Linked DNA regions of Homo sapiens: region 2 is linked to region 1. Evidence: fine-mapped expression QTL. Tissue or cell type: whole blood. Region 1 holds a variant in brackets; the other region holds the start of a gene. All regions are shown on one strand. Distances are from middle to middle.

Evidence for each region. PIP is the estimated chance that this variant, and not a neighbour inherited with it, causes the effect.
Region 2: MS4A2 starts here. The variant in region 1 is the best candidate, but not a certain one, in a credible set for the expression of MS4A2 in whole blood (TOPMed, PIP 0.89).

Annotation. Positions count from the first base shown.
Region 1 is chr11:60,029,225-60,035,936 of GRCh38, forward strand. It overlaps OOSP4B (oocyte secreted protein family member 4B), which reads left to right. Exons shown (of 5, transcript NM_001395278.3): 4 at 558-705; 5 at 1,578-1,871. The coding sequence ends at 1,610. Among named protein-coding and RNA genes, the nearest start is that of OOSP2, 7.8 kb to the right of the region's middle. The variant G/T (reference allele first, on the strand shown) is at 2,746.
Region 2 is chr11:60,085,799-60,091,037 of GRCh38, forward strand. It overlaps MS4A2 (membrane spanning 4-domains A2), which reads left to right and starts at 2,866. Exons shown (of 7, transcript NM_000139.5): 1 at 2,866-3,023; 2 at 3,894-4,023; 3 at 4,538-4,672. The coding sequence starts at 2,968.

The DNA.
Region 1 (6,712 bases):
ATTCCTTTTTCTTACATGCAGGGAAGGAAAGAGCAGCAGTGGGAATAAACACTACAACTCCTAAGATAGGATGGGGAAGGGTTGAGATGGTAGTTAAAGGTGGTGAAATCCTTTTTAACCTTGGAATGGGGTGTGTCTATGTCTCTATTTCCTGCCTAAGATTTTGGTGGTAGCATCTTTTTGCATACATATGGGTCTCTGTTTTCAATTTCTAATCTTGGGATGTGTGTGTGTGGCCTGGCTTGGTTGAGTCATAGTCCATTCAGCATAGATAGAATGTTTGTCACATCTAACAATCATTTTGCTCTTCAAAACTTTTATTGACCCCGGAGCCTCAAAGTCAAGTCAAGGATCAATTCTGGATCAATAAGTACCATCCTATTCAAGGTTCTGTTACAAACTCTTTATTTAGATTTACTGAGCTACTTTGCCTTTCCTCCACAAGTCAGTTATTTTGGGTTATCACTTATAACGAACCTATCTAATACATATTTTTCCCACAAAAAATCTGTACAGCTATTAATCCTGTGCTTTTCTTTTGTTTGCTCTGCATTTAGGCTTAAATTCCCCTCTGTGATGCATTTTGGAATGAGTGGGTTTGATGCCCACACCTTGAAAGAAATCCCTCAAAAAACAAAAGGACAAGAGTCACCAACTCCCACACAAAGTAAAACATGGACACTTAATTTTAACAGTGTTAATAAGGTGAGAATATTAAGGTTGTTTATTTTATAGTTAACCACAATTTGTTAAATATAACTTCAAGGAAGGCAATGATGTAAATTCCTATTTGAATGCTGCATGCTGAAATTGCTCTGGTTTTAATATGAACCCTGTAGAATTAGGTACCGTAGTCTGTACTTGGATATAGTTATCATTTTCTTGTTGCAGATGAACATGAATAGGTTCCATACTGGTCAGTTTCCTTACCTATTCTCTCAGGTACTAAACTGTTCATTTTCAATATAGCCTGTGACAAAATGAAATTGTTGTCATAGAAGGCCCATACCAGATCTCTAATTTCATACTAATATTTGTAGAAAAACATGTCTATATACATATATGTGTATAAAATAAGTAGGCAGATAGGTAAACTAGGCTTAAATTCAGAGGAAGTCACTACATCTAATTCGCACTTTTCCTAAGATTAATACCTGTAGAAAACACTCTTTTTAATCAGGATTTTTCTACTGAGCTTATTTTAAAAGGATGTCAGAAAACTTGTGCATATTGACAATAGCCTTGAAGTTGACATTTCATAAAGAAATAAGCTTTGTTCTAGAGATCTGAAAACCACTTAAAATCAAAGTTGAAATGTATGATGTAATTACTTGATAGTCTCAGAAAGGCAGTCATCTAGCCAACACATAGATGCTAATCACTTCTAATAGCATAATATCTAATGGTTATATTTGATATAGCTGGTTAGTTCCATAGATTACATTTTAGGGTAGAAATGTGATTTTTTTTTCCACATTACTTCTAATTGAGCACCCATGAGTTCTCTGAACGTGTTTTCTTTTTAGGTAAGGTTATATTTAAGCAGCTCTTAACTGCTTTTCCCCCCTATCCTACAGGAGCAACTATCCAAGAAGTCACTGTATCAATAATGCCTGTGTTATAACACCCTCTCCTCCCTAAAGCAAGGGAACAAGTGATACATCTTGTCTGAAAACCAGTTTCATCAATACTGTTGATGTGTCTGTACAAAGATGAGTAGCAACATCTGTTACCAGTTTCACTACATTTTGGAGTTTTGAATAACATATCTATACCATGATATTTATACTTTTTAATGAGTTAATTTTAAGTGAAATTGCCATTCTAACTCTGAAATCAAGCTCATACATAATAAAGCTTGCCCATACCCAGTGTGTTCTTTTCTGAATTAACATTCAGCATTTTTATGATTTAGTTGCTCACTTTAGTTTTACCCATTATTCTTCGTAACCGTGTCTTAGTGAAATATATTGAAGTCTCCCTCTTTTATAATGCACTCAAAAGGAGGATTTTCCCATGAGCCCTTCATCTGTGGCTTTCTATACTGCTTTTTTCTTTTCTGTTTCCTGATAATGTCTCATGAGGAAACATTGTAAACTTATTTTGACATTGTGCATTTCTTTTCTATTACCTTGATAAAGCAAGAATCTAGAAGAAAATATTTCAGTTGCTTTTTGGCCTAATTCTGAAAGTGTTGTAACCATACAGGGCCACAACTACACTGTCACACCACCCTTCCCACCATCAGTGCTTTGGTGGAGATTTTCTTAGTGAACAAGATGACTTGCTCTTCCTTTTGAGGCTCCTGAATTGATCGGCAAAATGTCGAGTAGGGAGATCCAGCTATGAATCCCAAATAAGAATTCCCATTGCATGGAGGGTGGCAAAAATAATAGTGCCAAGCACCAGGAGTGGGAGCTCACATATCTAGACCCACTGAATCTATCTTGGAGTTGCCAAGGATGACTTGGCACACACAAGGCACTGGTTGGAACCAGTGTCTTTTTTTGTGTGTCCGGAGAGAAGGAAAGGTGAAGCAAGGAGAAAAGATGAAGCAAAATCAGCATTTGTTGTGTGTATTAGTCTCCCATGTAGGTCCCTCCTGATAGCCAATGCAAAGTGGGGGATGCATGCACCCCTCTGGAGCTGTAGGCAAAGACCCTGATACCTTACCACAGGGGGTAGGTATACCTATACCGATACCAGCCAAGTGCCATGTGACACCCACACCTTAAGCAATACAGC[G/T]AATGTGCCTTGTGTACCCAGAACAGGGAAATGATTTATTCTAATAAAGAACCTGGAACCAAGTGACAACTTCGCTCCCAGCTTCCATATAGCACAGTGTCCCAGGCCCAGTGAAAATCCCTTAGAGGGACGGCAGGCTCCACAATAGCTGCTTATTCCAACACAAAAGTGCTCAAAACTCAGATCATGCTGATCACAGCTTGCATCCCAGGTGGAAAGATATCTAATTCTTCTCTTAATTTAAATTGCTTAGTATATCTCTGGAAGTGAAGTCTTGTGCCTTTGAGTATACTGTAAAAGAGTACAGGTGCCAAACTCATTCCAGGGAGCCTGAACCAGAAAGTACCACATACATGAGCAGGGATGCATGCACACAAATGATCTTTACTCAAAGCAGGGTCAGTCTTCTTCCATAGGGAAAATGTAGTTGGGGCAGAACATTCTTATGGCTAGACTTCTTGCTCCTGGGAGGGAGAAAAACTCATGGACACAAGAAAATGTGAAAAAGGTCTCTCTCCACCTCTTTAGACACAATTTATTTTTGCTAAATCTGAAAGTACCTCTCTTTCCCCTCTAGAAATGGGGATTTTTGTTCCAAGAGAATACAAAGACATCTAAATTTGAGTCATCTAGAACTGCTAAATAACTTAGCTGAGCTGCTGGGCTTGGTTGACTAACAGGTACCTAACTATGTCAATTTCCTGATCTTCAATCCTTCCCAAGACAGCTGAAGCTGGAAAAGAGCTGGGATTGGTTGAAGGGACTGAATACTTTTGTTTTTGAAATGAAAATGACAGTAAAATTTTGTCATCTGAATATATGTGATTCTTTTACTATTTTTATTTCTTTCCACCTTGAGTAAAATTAAAGATGCAGCATGACTTGGCCTGACCTTTCTTTTTTATTTGATTTTTGAGATGGAGTCTCGCTCTGTCACCCAGGCTGGGATTCAATGGGCACGATCTTGGCTCACTGCAACCTCTGCCTCCCGGGTTCAAATGATTCTCCCACCTCAGCCTCCTGAGTAGCTGGGATTACAGGCACCCATCATGCCTGGCTAATTTTTGTATGTTTGTAGAGATGGGGTTTCACTATGTTGGCCAGGCTGGTCTTGAACTCCTGACCTCAGGTGATCCACCCACCTCGGCCTCCCAAAGTACTGGGATTACAGGGGTGAGGACACTTGGCCTAATCTTTCATTTCGATAAACCCTAGTAGATTTTTGACTACTCCTGGAAATATAAATCCCAATTAAAAGATATTTTTGGGCTCTTATAAAAAAGTTAAAAAAATTACAGATGCTTGCCAGGTTGCAGAGAAAAGGGAACAATTACCTACTGCTGGTGGGAATGTAAATTAGCTCAGCATTGTGGAAAGCAGGGTGGCAATTCCTCCAAAAACTTAGGGCTATCATTCGACCCAGAAATCCCATTATTGGTTATATACCCAAAGGAATATAAATCATTCTACCATAAAGACACATGTTTGTCCCAGCACTATTCACAATAGCAAAGCCATGGAATCAATCTAAATGCTCATCAATAGTAGACTGGGTACAGATAATATGGTGCATATACACCATGGAACTCTACACAGCCATAAAAATGAGGCATGTCCTTTGCAACAACATGGATGGAGCTGGAGGCCATAATCGTAAGTGAAATAATGCAGGAACAGAAAACCTAATACCGCATATTCTCACCTATAAGTAGGAGCCAGACCTTGAGTACACGTGGAGACAAATCAGGGAACAACACACACCAGGGCCTACTTGAGGGATGGAGGGTAGGAGGAGGGAGAGGATAGAACACTACCCATCAGTTACTATGCTTATTACCTGGGTGACTAATCTGTACACCAAGCCCCGTGACACGCAGTTTACCTATATAACAAACCTGCACATGTACCCCTGAACCTAAAATTTAAAAATAGCCATCTGTGGCCCTCATTGCAATAGGATACATGCATTTATTTAACAATCACTACAGTAATGAGGCAGGTACTCATTAACTCAACCTAAAAAGTCTCAATGGTGAATTCAATTGACCAAAATCTCTACATGTCAGAATGAGGTTTTGATCCAGATGCTTTTGGTTTTAGATCTTAATTTTTGACATTTAATGTCTGATACTTTGAAAAATCTTAAGTTTTTAAAATTAACTTTTAATGTAAGTATTCACTAATTCCAATAATAATGATTTCAGGGATATACAGTGTATCAAAGGGAGATCAGATGGATAACAATCTGTTTTATTTTTGACAAGGATTTGTGCAGCTGTGAAATTGAAGAAACAATGTCTCTGGGTTAAAGAATCTTGTTAATTTCCTGGAGACATAGCAGTAACAGGCTGACCAGAAAGTTGGCGAAAATTGTTTTTGACTTGAAAGGTTAGAGCCAAGGGTCAAGAGAAGTGGTACAATTGAGGATATATTTTGCGGGATATTAAAACATACAAATGGTTTGGACACAGAGTGTGAGAAACACACTGGAATCAAGCATGTCTCCTGTGATTGGGGGCTATAAGTGGGTGACTTGTGGTGCTATTTAGATGGGAAAGATTTCTTTGGGAGTCAACACTTAATGTTTGTGCAGGCTTAAAAATTTAACATCTTTTAAATTTAGCAGTTTTTGTGGTTTTCTTTCTATCTTGCGTTCTTCATCAGTATTCAGACAGGATTTTTGCTAATCACTCCAAAAAAGGCTGGACTCAAACTTAATGTGGTTAGGGGAGTTAGCAGGTTTTGTCCTCCTTAGTAGTTGTGACAAAATGTAGAATAAAGGCAAACTGAAAGTCAGTCCTGTGGGTGCCCTGGTCAGAGAATGGGACAAAGTGGGGCACAGGGAGGTGTCAGATAGGTATGATCAGAGATGGCCTCTACAACTGCTGGCACCCGAATAATCCTAACAAAGGAATTTAAGTAATGCAGTCTTCCCATCCCTTTACTTCTAGCATATATAGTGTAACCTAGATAGCTACAGAGAAAACTGCTGTAATATTTATTGTTTAATTTTGATAAAGCTAATCAATTATTTACACATATGAGTTCATTATGCTAAGATATGCTTTGGGTAATACAAATAATTACACATGGGGTCTCTGCCAAGCATACTCTGAACAAAGTGTGTATAACAACTTTAAAATTTCCTTATGCACTTGCTTTATTCTGCATGTGTATCATAGAAAGGTTGTTTTACATTGGGATAAGGTCACAGTGGTGGTATAGTTTGAGTTGCCCCAAATCTTACACAAACAGACAGTGCAACCAATATATTGAAACAAAGCACACAGACTGTTATCTTTAGAACTTAGTGATCAGGTATCCCTAAAAATTGTAGAACACAATGAATGGGGCCAACCAACTGCCAATATGAGGCCCTCTACAGGGTTTCATGAAAACTCGGGAACAATTACTAATGGGATTCTTTTATTCTCGTTTTTTTTTTTTTGAATTGGATCAATGAATCCAAATTAGCACATATGACTGCTTTAAGTTTTTTTTTGAGTAGTAATATCCATCATGCTTGTTGAATTTTTAATCAGTTTAATAATTTGTTAGTTGATTCTCTTTTTTTAATAAGTTGATTATATCAGCTGAAACTAATATTGATATTAACTATTTCAGGCCAGGCACAGTGGCTCACACCTGTAATCCTAGCACTTTGGGAGGCCAAGGCAGGTGGATTGCTTGAGCCCAGGAGTTTGAGACCAGCCTGGGCAACATGGCAAAACCTCATCTCTACAAAAATTAGCCAGACATGGTGGTGGGTGCCTGTAGTCCCAGCTACTCAGGAGGCTGAGGTAGGAGGATCATCTGAGCCCAGGAGGTCGAGACTGCAGTGAGCCATGATCATGCCACTGCACTCCAGCCTGAGTGACAGAGTGAGATCCTGTCTCAAACAAAAAGTAACTATTTCAAATATATAAACTTTTTGTCTCTTGTCGGAGTGCAATAAGTTTTTTTTTTC
Region 2 (5,239 bases), 56 kb after region 1:
CCAGGGTTTTTATGGTTTTAGGTTTTACTTTTAAGGCTTTAATCTGAGACAGCATAAATTTCAACTTGTAGCATGCAAATTCATGCATATTTATTTTAAGTAAATTGAGCATTCAGTTTGAGAAAACAATTGTTAATGGATACAAAAGCAAATTTTTTGTCAGTTTCAAGAAAGAAATCTAGTATGTAACTTAAAGAGGAAACCTTGCTTGTCAAAGAGGAAGCCAGAGATGTGGGGTGGGTGAAAGGCATGTGCAAAGACCGTGCTAGAGGAGGAAAGATACATGGTAGGGAAGGGGTGTTAGCTCTGTTATCTCTTCCTTTCAGGTAGCAGCATAGTTAAAACTCATCTTGATAATTTTGCCTCACCAAAAAAGCCAGTCATTTTGTCATATGTTTCAATGTTCATTATTGTGAAAGATGATAAAACATGGCTGAAGGGAACCAAAGTGTGGGCATAGAAGATAATAGGTAACTTACGAAGGGGCAAGGAGGTGGTTGTGAAAATTGGAATAGGAAACAATTTGGAGGCCGTAAGGTATGACAGGTTCTGATTTGCATTTTGCAAGGTTCTGTTGACAGTTCTCACAAAACAGCATCGTGTGCAAACACCAAAGACCATCTTCAGTTTGTTTCCAGTCTAAATCTCAAGTTCAATTAGTGATTATTTGCTGCACAAATAATTAACTACTATAAGCTACTAGAAAACGCCACACAGAACCATGACTTCAGGACTTTTCCCAGCAGGTGTGGGGTAATTTCACTAAGAAGGAGGCAATAAGGCTGGGTGCCGGGGCTCACGCCTGTAATCCCAGCACTTTGGGAGGCCGAGGCGGGTGGATCACCTGAGATCTGGAGTTCAATCTAGCCTGACCAACATGGAGAAACCCTATCTCTACTAAAAATACAAAATCAGCCGGGCGTGGTGGCGCATGCCTGTAATCCCAGCTACTCCGGAGACTCAGGCAGGTGAATCGCTTGAATCCAGGAGGTGGAGTTTGCGGTGAGCCGAGATCGCGCCATTGCACTCCAGCTTGGGCAACAAGAGCGAAACTCCGTCAAAAAAAAAAAAAAAAAAAAAAAAAAAGAAAAGAAAAGAAAAAGAAAGATAAAATGAAAATTCGTGGCTGGGCGCAGTGGCTCACTCCTGTAATCTCAGCACTTTGGGAGGCCGAGGTGAGTGAGTCACCTGAGGACAGGAGTTCAAGACCAGCCTGGCCAACATGGTGAAACCCCTTCTCTACTAAAAATTCAAAAAAATTAGCCCAGTGTTGCTGCACACTCCTGTAGTCCCAGCTACTTGGGAGGCTGAGGCAGGAGAATTGCTTGAATCTGGGAGGCGGAGGTTGCAGTGAGCCATTGCCCTCCAGCCTGGGTGACAGAGTGAGACTCTGTCTCAAAAAAAAAAAGAAAAAAAAAGAAAATAGAAAATTATCGAGGCTATCATTTTAATTTTAAGTCTGCTCTCAAATGTTACCTTGTCTGGGAATTCCTTCCCTGAACTCTACATATCCCCTATCAGGCAGAATTGTTTTACCCTTCTATGTGTTCCAACATCCTCTGGCCTCCAACATATTGGGTAATAATATATCATTTATCTTTGTTCTATTCTGCTTGATTGTGGACTAGAAGGACCTGGGATTTTGGCATTCATCTGTGCATGCACAGTGATAAGGGCAGTGCCTGGCATGGAACACTAAGTTCTTTTTGGATGAACGTATAAGTGAGAAAGTTCTATTCCTTAATTCCAATAGCACCTTGTTTAGGTCCACCAATTCCTGAAGACACCATGGGAAGATGACACCTGAGTTAATAAACTTAGATACAAAAGCTATACCAATATGTCTTTTAGTATACTCTGTTTATGCAAATATCTTAGTTTCCTGCAAAAAGATTTTCTTTTTCACCCCCCACCCCCACCAAAAAAACCACACATGATTAGAGGTGTGATTTTTAGTATCTTAAATATTATTGAAAGCCATTCAAGGTTATGTTTATAATTAAACTGAAATAAAAGAGATTAAAACCTTCTCTGAATTTTATCTGTACTGATTTTGCTATGGTCTAGCTAGTTATGGTATTTCAATGATCACATGGTTTAGCCCTAATTCTAATTTAGGCATACTACTCAATCCAATGCTGTTTAGATTTGCTCATGGGATTTGTTATAAAGTTCATGTCTCTCAGTGTTCTCACTATCCCATTCTTGCCACTGTAAAGATCTAAGCACCATCAGTCTAATAATTTAGCAGACAATGGAGTCTTCTTAGCTTTTACACACTATCAGGTATGGTTCACAGCAGTTAGAATGCAGCCTGTTGTATTTCCAAGACCATCTGCTGCAGCGAATCATGTAAACAGTTTCCAAAAGACGGAAAGAGAGAGAAAGATGATAGATATTAAAGTCAGAGATGGATCTGGAGATTTAGAGACTAACACATACTCACTCACATACAACAGCACTTCAGTTTTGGGTCTATGTGTGAAACCAAGCATGCCTTAAACAAGGAAGACAAGCTTTTCAAAGGTGCAATTGGATAACTTCTGCCATAGAAATGGCTGAATTGGGACACAAGTGGGGACAATTCCAGAAGAAGGGCACATCTCTTTCTTTTCTGCAGTTCTTTCTCACCTTCTCAACTCCTACTAAAATGTCTCATTTTCAGGTTCTGTAAATCCTGCTAGTCTCAGGCAAAATTATGCTCCAGGAGTCTCAAATTTTCTTATTTCATATTAGTCTTTATTTAGTAGACTTCTTAATTTTTCTATTCATCACAAGTAAAAGCCTGTTGATCTTAATCAGCCAAGAAACTTATCTGTCTGGCAAATGACTTATGTATAAAGAGAATCATCAATGTCATGAGGTAACCCATTTCAACTGCCTATTCAGAGCATGCAGTAAGAGGAAATCCACCAAGTCTCAATATAATAATATTCTTTATTCCTGGACAGCTCGGTTAATGAAAAAATGGACACAGAAAGTAATAGGAGAGCAAATCTTGCTCTCCCACAGGAGCCTTCCAGGTAGGTACAAGGTATTATTTTTTTCTACCCTCAGTCACTTAGTGGCAGGGGAAGTCATAGTCACGGTGCTTAGGAGATGAAACTTTATTGATTTAGGCATGGATCCATCTAGTTTAATTAATATATTGGGTATGAGGAAGCTACTTGCTGTACTTTCCATGTGGTTCTCTCTCCCTGGAGAGGAACATTTTTACTCAGCTTGCAAACTGGAAATAGATTTTCTCACATTAGAAGCTCATTTTCTGGGTATGAGACAGGAGAGTTCATACTGTGTATGTAGATCTCTGGCTTCTGGGTCTGACATGTGCTGAGGGACACATATCCTTCACACATGCTTTTATAAATACTTGATAAAGTAACCTGCTTCTTGATTGGTCTTTATAATCCATAAGCTGTGGGATGCTTCTCTGAAGATGAAAATAGTAATAGAGTCCCATCTAGCTATTCAAAGCCATTCCTTCATTGTATTCTGTGCACATGAAGTTGGGGTTTGTTACTGACAAAATATATTCAGATACATTTCTATGTTAAAAGGATTGTGAGATGCATAGGTAAATGTGTTTATTTTCAGTTTTACTTGTCAACATAGATGAATGAGAAAGAACTTGAAAGTAACACTGGATTAAGAATAGGAAAATTTGGCATGGATTTTGCTCCATTTTGTCCCATCTAATCACTTGGATAGTGTTCAGGTGTTCTTGGTCAGTTACTTGGATGCTCTGAGCTTTAGTTTCTTGGTGATTACAATGAAGATTTGAATTACAGGATGGCTTTGAAAAAATAAACAAAACTCCCCTTTCTGTCTGTCGAGAATGTTGCACAGGGAGTTACAGAATGTTCTCATGACTGAATTGCTTTTAAATTTCACAGTGTGCCTGCATTTGAAGTCTTGGAAATATCTCCCCAGGAAGTATCTTCAGGCAGACTATTGAAGTCGGCCTCATCCCCACCACTGCATACATGGCTGACAGTTTTGAAAAAAGAGCAGGAGTTCCTGGGGGTGAGTGAGCCTCCTCCAACTTTGACTAGAGTAAGGGTTGGGTCTAGAAAAGAATATTGAGTTGCATCAACTGTTTTCCCACTTGGATTCATGAGAGGTGTTAGGTCCTTTAAAAAACATGGTAGATAAAGAGTTGACACTAACTGGGTCCTTTTGGGAAGAGAGAAGCATTTCCTCATAAAGACTTTAAATTGCTAGGACGAGAATGGCCAACAGGAGTGAAGGATTCATAATCTTTATCTTTACTTAGATGTAAAGAACAATTACTGATGTTCAACATGACTACGTACATAAAGGCGCATGGAGAAAAGTATTGGCCTTCCATGCATTAGGTAGTGCTTGTATCAATTCTTATAGTGGCTAGGGTATCCTGGAAAATCTTACGTGTGGATCATTTCTCAGGACAGTCTAGGACACTAACGCAGTTTCTCATGTTTGGCTTCTATTATTAAAAAATGATACAATCTCGGGAAAATTTTTTTGATTTTCATGAAATTCATGTGTTTTTCTATAGGTAACACAAATTCTGACTGCTATGATATGCCTTTGTTTTGGAACAGTTGTCTGCTCTGTACTTGATATTTCACACATTGAGGGAGACATTTTTTCATCATTTAAAGCAGGTTATCCATTCTGGGGAGCCATATTTGTGAGTATATATCTATAATTGTTTCTGAAATAACACTGAACATAGGTTTTTCTCTTTCTCAGATCTAACCAGTTGTTTATTCCCAGTATTAACATGATATTTATAATTCTTAATTATAAATTATATGTGAGCATATATAACATAGATATGCTCATTAACAACAACAAAAGATTCTTTTTACAATTAACGGTGGGTTAAACATTTAGCCCACAGTTTTATCCCATGAGAAACCTGAATCTAATACAAGTTAAATGACTTGCCTAAGGGCCACTTGACTAATAGTAATTGAACCTAAACTTTCAGAATCCAACTCCAGGAACATACTTCTAGCACTATTCATCAATAAAGTTATATGATAAATACATACAACTTTATCTGTCAACTAAAAATAACAACAAAGGCTGGGCATGGTGGCTCACACCCGTAATCCCAGCACTTTGGGAGGCTGAGGCAGGTGGATCACCTGAGGTCAGGAGTTTGAGACCAGCCTGACCAACATGGTGAAACCTCATCTCTACTAAATATAAAAAATTAGCTGAGTGTGATAGTGCATGCCTGTAATCCCAG